Linked DNA regions of Homo sapiens. The protein of the gene in region 2 purifies or fractionates together with the protein of the main gene of each other region. This does not show direct contact. Each region holds a gene or a part of one and is shown on either strand. Other genes may lie near its edges.

Region 1 (3,655 bases), on a different chromosome or scaffold from region 2:
TGGTGGGCAGGACTATGCAAACTTACGCTCAAAGAGTGAGGAAGCTGAGAGACAGAAGAAAGAAGCTGACAAATCCAGTTTATTAGAAACATTTACTAGGACTTATGAACTGAAGCCATGTCTATGTCTTGGGCGGCAGCAAGACAAGATGGTGGATCCCTGCACCATTACCCACCAGAGCCAGGGCTTATATACCATAGGGAAGAAATGTGTACAGCAGTTACAAGGAAAGGCAAGGATGCTATGCAAATCTGCCTGAGAGCAAGATTTGTGCTCAAGATTGTATTGACCTAAGGCAGGATTTAAGGTAGCCATAGACAAAGTAGAAATCTTAGAAGCATTCCCAGAGCAGGAGTTAACCAGAAATCAACATGGTATATCAGCATCCAAGATGAAATTGCTTTAGCCACCGTACTGACTGTTCTCCGCCTGGTCTGGTTCATTCTTGCTGATTGCATAATAATTAGACACCTAATCTTCGAAGGGCCAAACTAAAAAGAGGACAGGAAAATGCCATAGAACTTGTCCTTGTGATCCAATGAAATAGGCAGTGTGGGGCTTAGAAGGCATATGTCCAGGCTGTGGAGGTCTTGCTCCTCAGTGCTGTCAGAGAAGTTGGTGGCAGGGCCTCTGGACTATAAATCTTTTAAAGCTGAAATTTTGGCTGGGCATAGTGGCTCATACCTGTAATCTTAGCACTTTGGGAGGCCAAGGCAGAAGGATTGTTTGAATCCAGGAGTTCGAGACCAGCCTTGGCAACAAAGTGAGACCCATTCTCTATAATAAATTTTAAAAATTAAAAAAATTTCCCAGGTGTGGTGGTATACACCTGTGGTCCCAGCTATTCTGGAGGCTGAGGCAGGAGAATTACTGGAACCCGGAACTTCAAGGCTGCAGTGAGCTGTGATTGTGCCACCATACTCCATCCAGCCTGAGCAACAAAGTAAATGAGACTCTGTCTCTAAAAATGAAAAAAAAAAACAAACTGAAATTTCATCCACTTCTCCTGTATACCTACCAGCCCTCCTCCACCCTTAAAATTTTTCTATTTTTTAATCTAAGCCAAATGTGATGGAAATGATTAGCATGTATCTGTCCCCAGACCAAGTTAGGATCCTGGGCTGTGTAAACAGAAGTAGAACATTTCAAAACTCTGAGGTCATCCTTCAGCTATGTTCAGCTTGGGTCAGGTGCTTGCCGAAATGCTACCTCGCCAGCCAGCCGAGAGTAACAAAGGCCATTCATGGGTTGCCTGTAGAGTGAGACCAAAACATCAGAATTGTTTCCCTGCAGGAGGTTAACTTTCGGATCCTTAATAACAGTTATTTTTAAATTTATGCAGAGTATTTGGGCTGAATAAGTCAGAGGGAATAGGATGACTGGGTGTGAGGTATCAGAGTCAGTAAGTCATCAGATGGGATCTCCGCACATCTTGGGAGGATTGGGTGGCCAAGCTGGTGTTTTATTATTTTGTTCCCCTGAATTATTGATGATATTTATAGTGATATGTTAAGAATTCAGAAGAGGCTGGTAGACTTTCCTGAATGAAAAGCTTTCCCAAGCGAGATGACTTATAAATCTTATAAAAATGCATCCCGTGAATGGAAGATTTCTGCTCCAAAAAAGAACTATTGAAATATTTCGGCACCAGGAGGGTAGTCTGAATGCAAAGATGAGTTTATACAAGCTTCATTCAAGTTTTATTATAATTACTACTACTACTAATAGTGTATTAAATGAAAGTTACCTGCCCATCTTTTCATCTCTATAGGACTTGATGATTAAAAAAACAGACCATTTGTATTCTAGTAGCTTGCAAAGGATTAGGGGAGACAGGCTACCAAACTACCAAGGGGAGGCTTAACATGTTAACTAGGGAGGTGAGCGTGCCCTGCTAGACCACCTGTATCCCCAAATTGAATAGCCACATTACAAAGACATGGCCTTGGGCCAGCTCCTGAGCTCTGCCTTTGAACTCTTGTCAACACCAAGTTTATTCATGTTCTCAAAGCCTAGCGGGTTTACTATTGTTAGCTCCTCTTGGGGTGTCTAGAACAAAGCCAGCAACGCGTTTAAAGTGAATCTGGGCTCACAGATACAACCAAAAGTGTTCTTTTTGAAACACAGAATTTGAGATCATTTTAGCCTATGCTTAAAGAAAGTGTAAAATGGATGGGGGGTTTGATTTTGTTCCTTTTTAGAAGGAGAAATAATAAATAGGATGGTTTGTCTGTAGACCCAGTCCTTTTAAGTAAGGACCCTAAAAAGTTGTTTTCCGGCCCTGTTCTTTCCCGTAACAGGTATTTCTGAGCCTACTGTGTGCATAGTATTATCAGGGTGTTAGGTACACGGTAGACATTTAAAAAAGCGCTTTAGAAGAGTCTTTGGATTTGGCTGGTGGAGAGCCCTAGTGGTGGAGTCCTTGAGTAGCTTGTTTTACTTCCTTAAGAATTGTTACTTTTTCTTTATGTTGATGTAAAAGTGAAAGTGCCACTTTATTACACTGGTTGTTAAAAAATCTGTATCTGTGTGATTTCTTCCCCAATTGCTAGAAAATCCACCCAGAGAGAACACCTTCGGAAAAATTGTTAGCTGTGAAGGAGTTTGAATCACGTAAGTCTTTCTGTGACCAGCCGCGCAGTTCTCTCAGCCACAGATTTCACATGGGTTGGGCAGGATTGAAGCGAGGACGGGCTAGTTTGTGCTCAGAGGAGTAGTGATTTCTTTGATTACTAGTTTTTATTTTTACTCTTGTGCTGTTTCGAAAAGCACTTTTAGCTTTTTTCTTCTGAGTTGACAGGATTGTTAGGAAATAATTAAAGGAGGTAGGAGCTCCCAAAATGAATTATTGCACCCTGAGCTACCTCCTGCTGGCCCTCTTGGCATGCTGAATACTTTTGGATCTTTGCTGAATTGCGTCCTCTAAATAGCTGATGTTCTTACTGAAAGCCGTGAAATCAGGGGTTGTCCAGTTGTTTGACCACGGCCCAGATTCCCGGGCCAATTGGGGGGCCCTTGACTAGGCTGAGGCTGGTTATGAGTCATTGCTACCCATCCCTGACCTCATTGCTAACAGTCAGTCGAAATCTCACGTCCCAAGTGACTTCTAGTCATCAGAGGGAGAGAAGGAAGAAATGGCTTGCTTTCTTTCCTTAGGGTTTGTCAGTTAAACCAAGTAATGGGGAAGAATGTTCTCTGGGGGTTCAACATGTTAGTTTTGGGTTTTTTTTTTTTCGCCCGTTCCTTTCCTCTGTATCATTTACAGCAAAAATAGGATGTAGCTAGAAATCCCACGCTTTCTACTGGGTGAATAATGGATTATTTATCCACAGATCTGGATAAGTTAGACAATGAGAAGAAGGATTTGATTCAGAGTGACATAGCTGCTCTCCATCACTTTTACTCCAAGCATCTCGGATTCCCTGACAATGATAGCCTCGTAGTACTCTTTGCACAGGTAAGGACGCTGGCAGCAGGTAACACTCAGTCTGGCCTTTCCCTCTCCAAGGCCCTCTCCCTAGCAAGCACTCAGTGAAGATGAATGCAAATAGAATGATGGCATCTTCCTGACAACGAAGCTCTGAGCCAATTGGACCGTGTGTTGCCATAGCCTTGCTCAGTGACCTTGAGCAGATCAAGGTCCCCTCTGCTGGCC
Region 2 (3,655 bases):
AATGAATACATATTTGATGCAGAAAAACTGTGAAGAATACCACAAGCACAAGAAAAAACCTGCAGTCCCAACATTCCAGATCAAACTTTGATTCACTTTAAAAATGTTCTTGTTTTTCCTATTCGTATGTACAACTTTCTTTTTTTTTGAGACAGAGTTTCACTCTTGTTGCCCAGGCTGGAGTGCAATGGCGCGATCTCGGCTCACTGCAACCTCTGCCTCCCGGGTTCAAGCAATTCTCCTGTCTCAGCATCCTGAGTACCTGGAATTACAGGCATGTACCACCACACCCGGCTAATTTTGTATTTTTAATAGAGACCGGGTTTCACCATGTTGTTCAGGCTGGTCTCGAACTCCTGACCTCAAGTGATCTGCCTGCCTTAGCCTCCCAAAGTGGTGAGATTACAGGCGTGAGCCACCATGCCCGGCTGTACAACCTTTTTTCAATACAATTTCATCAGTTGTAATATCATCTTGTAGCCATCTTTTTTATTTATAATACATAATAAAATGTTTACCATGTTGTTTTTGTCCTTTTTCTTTTTTTTTTCGAGATGGAGTCTCGTTCTGTCATCCAGGCTGGAGTGCAGTGGTGCCATCTCGGCTCACTGCAACCTCTGCCTCCCAGGTTCAAGCAATCCTCCTGCCTCAGCCTCCTGAGTAGCTGGGACAACAGGCGCCCGCCACCATGCTCAGCTAATTTTTGTATTTTTAGTAGAGATGGGGGTTTCACCATGTTGGCCAGGCTGGTGTCGAACTCCTGACCTCAAGTGATCCGCCCACCTCGGCCTCCCTAAGTGCTGGGATTACAGGAGTGAGCCACCCCACTCAGCCATCCCTTGTAGTTAAATGGGATTAACAAGGGAATGTTAAGTGTCTTGTTTAGAGTATTTAATAACATTCCCTTGTTTAATCTCATTTAACAACATGGGGAAAGTTTATTAAGTATTGCAAGTAAAATGGTGACAAAGGGTATGTATATTCATCAAGGTTTTTCAGATATGATCACCAGATTGTATCCTGGAAAGGTTATACCAAATTTGTATTTCCACCAGTAGTATATACAACTTTGTTTATTCTAAGCAACATATCACTTCGGGGAAACCTAAAAAATATTAGGACAAAATTTAAATAGCAATTTATACAACACACTAAATGGGTTCCTCAGGCAAACTCAAATCAATAGTTAAGACTTTTTCTTACAGAAAAAGATTCAAATCCAGGTTTCTTTTACAAATTGTGGAATTCTTTTTCTATAAAAAAAAATTATATGTTTCAACTTGACTCAAATTTTAAGGGATACATTTACTATGTAAAGCTAGCATTTAAATTAAATATTTAATTTAAATTAAATATTCTCTACACTTGTCCCAGCTACTCAGGAGGCTGAGGCAGGAGGATTGCTTGAACTTGGGAGGCAGAGGTTGCAGTGAGCCGAGATGGCACCACTGCACTGCAGCCTGGGTGACAGAGTGAGACTCCATCTCAAAAAAAAAAAAAAAAAAAAAAAACAAACTTGTCTGCAATGAGATAAGGAGTTTGTACCTTGTACCAGGATATACATCAACTCTTTCATTGACTTTTTTTCTCCAAGACTTTCTCAATGAAGGAAGTAGTATGTTGATTTACATTCTAGTGTTTCTTATTTGACTACAAACAAGTATAGTTCAGATTATACATATGTATATACACACACACACACATATACAAATATAAATATAAATATAAATACTGGCTGGGTGCAGTGGCTCACGCCTGTAATTCCAACACTTTGAGAGGTGGAGGCGGGCAGATCACCTGAGGTCATGAGTTCAAGACCAGTCTGGCCAACATGGAGAAAGCCTGTCTCTACAAAAATACAAAAATTAGCTGGGTGTGGTGGCAGGTGCCTGTAATCCCAGCTACTTGGGAGGCTGAGGCAGGAGAATCACTTGAAACCAGGAGGTGGAGGCTGCAGTGAGCCGAGATCGCGCTACTGCACTCCAGCCTGGGCAACAGAGGGAGATTCCATGTCAAAACAAACAAATAAATAAAAAATAAATAAATACCGTAGCATCACATCAAGTACAGTCATGCATCACTTAATGAAGGGAGATATATTCTGAGAAATGCATTGTTAGGTGATTTTTGACCCTGGATGAACATCATAGAGTATACTTACACAAACCTAGATGGTATAGTCTACTATACCTAGACTATATTGCATAGCCAATTGCTCCTAGGCTACAAACCTATATAGCACATTACTATACTGAATACTGTAGGCAACTGTAACATAATGGTAAACATTTGTGCATCCAAAAAAACCATATATTTATTTCTTAAGATAGGGTCTCACTCTGTCACTCAGGCTAGAGTGCAGTGCAGTGGCACAATCATGGCTCACTGCAGCCTCAACCTCCCTGGCCTTAGGTGATCCTCCTGCCTCAGCCCTCCCTAGTAGTTGGGATTACAGGCATGAGCCACTGTGCCTGGCCAGATCTAAACATATTTAAATACTGGAAAGGAGCCGGGCTCAGTGGCTCATGCTTGTAATCCAAACAGTTTGGGAGGCCAAGGTGGGAAGAACACTTGAGCCTAGGAGTCTGAGATCAGCCTGGGGAACATGGTGAGACCTCGTCTCTATTTAAAAAACACAAAAGGCCGCACACATGGTGGCTCATGCCTGTAATTCCCAGCATTTTGGGAGGGTGAGGAGGCAGGATCATTTGGACTCAGTTCAAGACCAGCCTGGACAACACAGTGAGACCTTGTCTCTAATAAAAAAAACAAAAAACAAAAAACAAAAAAAACTGGGCGTGGCTGCATGCGCCTGTAGTCCCAGCTACTCAGGAGATTGAGGCAGGAGGATTGCTTGAGCTGGGGAGATCAAGGTTGCAGTGAGCTATGATTGTAATACTGCACCCCAGCCTGGGTAACAGAGCGAGACCTTGTCTCAAAAAAAAAAAAAAAAAAAAAAAGAAAAGAAAAAAAGAAAATGTGCAGTAAAAATACAGTATTATAATCCTATAGGAGCACCATTGTATATGTGGCCCACAGTTGACCCAAAACGTCTAATTTTTGCCTACATTATGAAAAGAAAAACATGCAATACTACCAATTCTGGAGTAAAGTCTCTTTCTCCAAACCAATTACTCAGATATTCCAAGACACTAGTTACTGTTGCCTAAAAAAAAAAAGAGGGGGTGGAGAAGAGTTGTATTAATAATAAAACATGAATTCAACATGAGTTTCATTAAGTTTATTTAGAAAGCAACTCTGATGTTAAAAATGGCCTCATTCTTTAAACTTTCAAAGAAAGCTAATTTGTTTGACTCTAATTAGTTTGATTAGGCGGCTTATCCAATGAGGCTTTTTTTTTTTTTTTTTTTTTTTTTTGAGATAGAGTCTCACTCTGTTGCCCAGGCTGGAGCGCACTGGTGCGATCTTGGCTCACTGCAACCTCCGCCTCCCGGGTTCAAGCAATTCTCCTGCCTCAGCCCCCTGAGTAGCTGAGATTACATGCGTGCACCACCACGTCCGGCTAATTTTTGTATTTTTAGTAGAGACAGGGTTTCTGCATGTTGGTCAGGCTGGTCGAACTCTCGACCTCAGGTGATCCGCCCTCCTCGGCCTCCCAAAGTGCTGCGATCACAGGTGTGAGGCACCGCGCCTA
Region 3 (3,655 bases), on a different chromosome or scaffold from region 2:
CAGTGGGCGCAGGTCAGTGGGTGCGTGCACCGTGCGCGAGCCGAAGCAGGGCGAGGCATTGCCTCACTTGGGAAGCGCAAGGGGTCAGGGAGTTCCCTTTCCTAGTCAAAGAAAGTGGTGACAGACGGCACCTGGAAAATCGGGTCACTCCCACCCGAATACTGCGCTTTTCCGACAGGCTTAAAAAACGGCGGACCAGGAGATTATATCCCCCACCCGGCTCGGAGGGTCCTACGCCCACGGAGTCTCGCTAATTGCTAGCACAGCAGTCTGAGATCAAACTGCAAGGCGGCAGCGAGGCTGGGGGAGGGGCGCCCGCCATTGCTCAGGCTTGCTTAGGTAAACAAAGCAGCTGGGAAGCTCCAACTGGGTGGAGCCCACCACAGCTCAAGGAGGCCTGCCTGCCTCTGTAGGCTCCACCTCTGGGGGCAGGGCACAGACAAACAAAAAGACAGCAGTAAACTCTGCAGACTTAAATGTCCCTGTCTGACAGCTTTGAAGAGAGCAGTGGTTCTCCCAGCACGCAGCTGGAGATCTGAGAACGGGCAGACTGCCTCCTCAAGTGGGTCCCTGGCCCCTGACCCCCGAGCAGCCTAACTGGGAGGCACCCCCCAGCAGGGGCAGACTGACACCTCACACGGCCGGGTGCTCCAACAGACCTGCAGCCGAGGGTCCTGTCTGTTTGAAGGAAAACTAACAAACAGAAAGGACATCCACACCAAAAACCCATCTGTACATCACCATCATCAAAGACCAAAAGTAGATAAAACCACAAAGATGGGGAAAAAACAGAGCAGAAAAACTGGAAACTCTAAAAAGCAGAGTGCCTCTCCTCCTCCAGAGGAACGCAGTTCCTCACCAGCAACAGAACAAAGCTGGATGGAGAATGACTTTGACGAGCTGAGAGAAGAAGGCTTCAGACGATCAAATTACTCCGAGCTACAGGAGGAAATTCAAACCAAAGGCAAAGAAGTTGAAAACTTTGAAAAAAATTTGGAAGAATGTATAACTACAATAACCAATAAAGAAAAGTGCTTAAAGGAGCTGATGGAGCTGAAAACCAAGGCTCGAGAACTACGTGAAGAATGCAGAAGCCTCAGGAGCCGATGTGATCAACTGGAAGGAAGGGTATCAGCGATGGAAGATGAAATGAATGAAATGAAGGCTACAAGCCAGAAGAAAGTGGAGGCCAATATTCAACATTCTTAAAGAAAAGAATTTTCAACCCAGAATTTCATATCCAGCCAAACTAAGCTTCATAAGTGAAGGAGAAATAAAATACTTTACAGACAAGCAAATGCTGAGAGATTTTGTCACCACCAGGCCTGCCCTAAAAGAGCGCCTGAAGAAGCGCTAAACGTGGAAAGGAACAACTGGTACCAGCCGCTGCAAAATCACGCCAAAATGTAAAGACCATCGAGACTAGGAAGAAACTGCATCAACTAATGAGCAAAATAACCAGCTAACATCATAATGACAGGATCAAATTCACACATAACAATATTAACTTTAAATGTAAATGGACTAAATGCTCCAATTAAAAGACACAGACTGGCAAATTGGATAAAGAGTCAAGACCCATCAGTGTGCTGTATTCAGGAAACCCATCTCACGTGCAGAGACACACATAGGCTCAAAATAAAAGGATGGAGGAAGATCTACCAAGCAAATGGAAAACAAAAAAAGGCAGGGGTTGCAATCCTAGTCTCTGATAAAACAGACCTTAAACCAACAAAGATCAAAAGATACAAAGAAGGCCATTACTTAATGGTAAAGGGATCAATTCAACAAGAAGAGCTAACCTAAATATATATGCACCCAATACAGGAGCACCCAGATTCATAAAGCAAGTCCTGAGTGACCTACAAAGAGACTTAGACTCCCACACATTAATAATGGGAGACTTTAACACTCCACTGTCAACATTAGACAGATCAACGAGACAGAAAGTCAACAAAGATACCCAGGAATTGAACTCAGCTCTGCACCAAGTGGACTTAATAGACATCTACAGAACTCTACACCCCAAATCAACAGAATATACATTTTTTTCAGCACCACACCACACCTATTCCAAAATTGACCACATACTTGGAAGTAAAGCTCTCCTCAGCAAATGTAAAAGAACAGAAATTATAACAAACTATCTCTCAGACCACAGTGCAATCAAACTAGAACTCAGGATTAAGAATCTCACTCAAAACCGCTTAACTACATGGAAACTGAACAACATGCTCCTGAATGACTACTGGGTACATAACAAAATGAAGGCAGAAATAAAGATGTTCTTTGAAACCAACGAGAACAAAGACACAACATACCAGCATCTCTGGGATGCATTCAAAGCAGTGTGTAGAGGGAAATTTATAGCACTAAATGCCCACAAGAGAAAGCAGGAAAGATCCAAAATTGACATCCTAACATCACAATTAAAAGAACTAGAAAAGCAAGAGCAAACACTTTCAAAAGCTAGCAGAAGGCAAGAAATAACTAAAATCAGAGCAGAAATGAAGGAAACAGAGACACAAAAAACCCTTCAAAAAATTAATGAATCCAGGAGCTGGTTTTTTGAAAGGATGAACAAAATTGATAGACCGCTAGCAAGACGAATAAAGAAAAAAAGAGAGAAGAATCAAATAGACGCAATAAAAAATGATAAAGGGGATATCACCACCTATCCCACAGAAATACAAACTACCATCAGAGAATACTACAAACACCTCTACGCAAATAAACTAGAAAATCTAGAAGAAATGGATAAATTCCTGGACACATACACTCTCCCAAGACTAAACCAGGAAGAAGTTGAACCTCTGAATAGACCAATAACAGGAGCTGAAATTGTGGCAATAATCAATAGCTTACCAACCAAAAAGAGTCCAGGACCAGATGGATTCACAGCCGAATTCTACCAGAGGTACAAGGAGGAAATGGTACCATTCCTTCTGAAACTATTCCGATCAATAGAAAAAGAGGGAATCCTCCCTAACTCATTTTATGAGGCCAGCATCATCCTGATACCAAAGCTGGGCAGAGACACAACCAAAAAAGAGAATTTTAGACCAATATCCTTGATGAACATTGATGCAAAAATCTTCAATAAAATACTGGCAAACCGAATCCAGCAGCACATGAAAAAGCTTATCCAACATGATCAAGTGGGCTTCATCCCTGGGATACAAGCCTGGTTCAATATACGCAAATCAATAAATGTAATCCAGCATATAAACAGAACCAAAGACAAAAACCACATGATTATCTCAATAGATGCAGAAAAGGCCTTTGACAAAATTCAACAACACTTCATGCTAAAAACTCTCAATAAATTAGGTATTGATGGGACGTATCTGAAAATAATAAGAGCTATCTATGACAAACCCACAGCCAATATCATACTGAATGGGCCAAAACTGGAAGCATTCCCTTTGAAAACTGGCACAAGACAGGGATGCCCTCTCTCACCACTCCTATTCAACATAGTGTTGGAAGTTCTGGCCAGGGCAATTAGGCAGGAGAAGGAAATAAAGGCTATTCAATTAGGAAAAGAGGAAGTCAAATTGTCCCTGTTTGCAGACGACATGATTGTATATCTAGAAAACCCCATTGTCTCAGCCCAAACTCTCCTTAAGCTGATAAGCAATTTCAGCAAAGTCTC

What was found.
Region 1: the proteins of GEMIN2 (region 2) and SMYD2 purify together in Homo sapiens (co-immunoprecipitation; one large-scale study listed by IntAct). This does not show direct contact.
Region 3: the proteins of GEMIN2 (region 2) and IQUB purify together in Homo sapiens (co-immunoprecipitation; one large-scale study listed by IntAct). This does not show direct contact.

Annotation. Positions count from the first base shown.
Region 1 is NC_000001.11:214,315,527-214,319,181, forward strand, and holds part of SMYD2 (N-lysine methyltransferase SMYD2), read left to right. Parts: intron 1-2,552; coding exon 2,553-2,613; intron 2,614-3,332; coding exon 3,333-3,457; intron 3,458-3,655. UniProt on the Homo sapiens protein: Protein-lysine N-methyltransferase that methylates both histones and non-histone proteins, including p53/TP53 and RB1. Specifically trimethylates histone H3 'Lys-4' (H3K4me3) in vivo. The activity requires interaction with HSP90alpha.
Region 2 is NC_000014.9:39,127,791-39,131,445, reverse strand, and holds part of GEMIN2 (gem-associated protein 2), read right to left. Parts: intron 3,167-3,655; coding exon 3,098-3,166; intron 1-3,097. UniProt on the Homo sapiens protein: The SMN complex catalyzes the assembly of small nuclear ribonucleoproteins (snRNPs), the building blocks of the spliceosome, and thereby plays an important role in the splicing of cellular pre-mRNAs.
Region 3 is NC_000007.14:123,524,558-123,528,212, reverse strand, and holds part of IQUB (IQ motif and ubiquitin-like domain-containing protein), read left to right. Parts: intron 1-3,655. UniProt on the Homo sapiens protein: Adapter protein that anchors the radial spoke 1 (RS1) complex to the A microtubule of outer doublet microtubules in axonemes. The triple radial spokes (RS1, RS2 and RS3) are required to modulate beating of the sperm flagellum.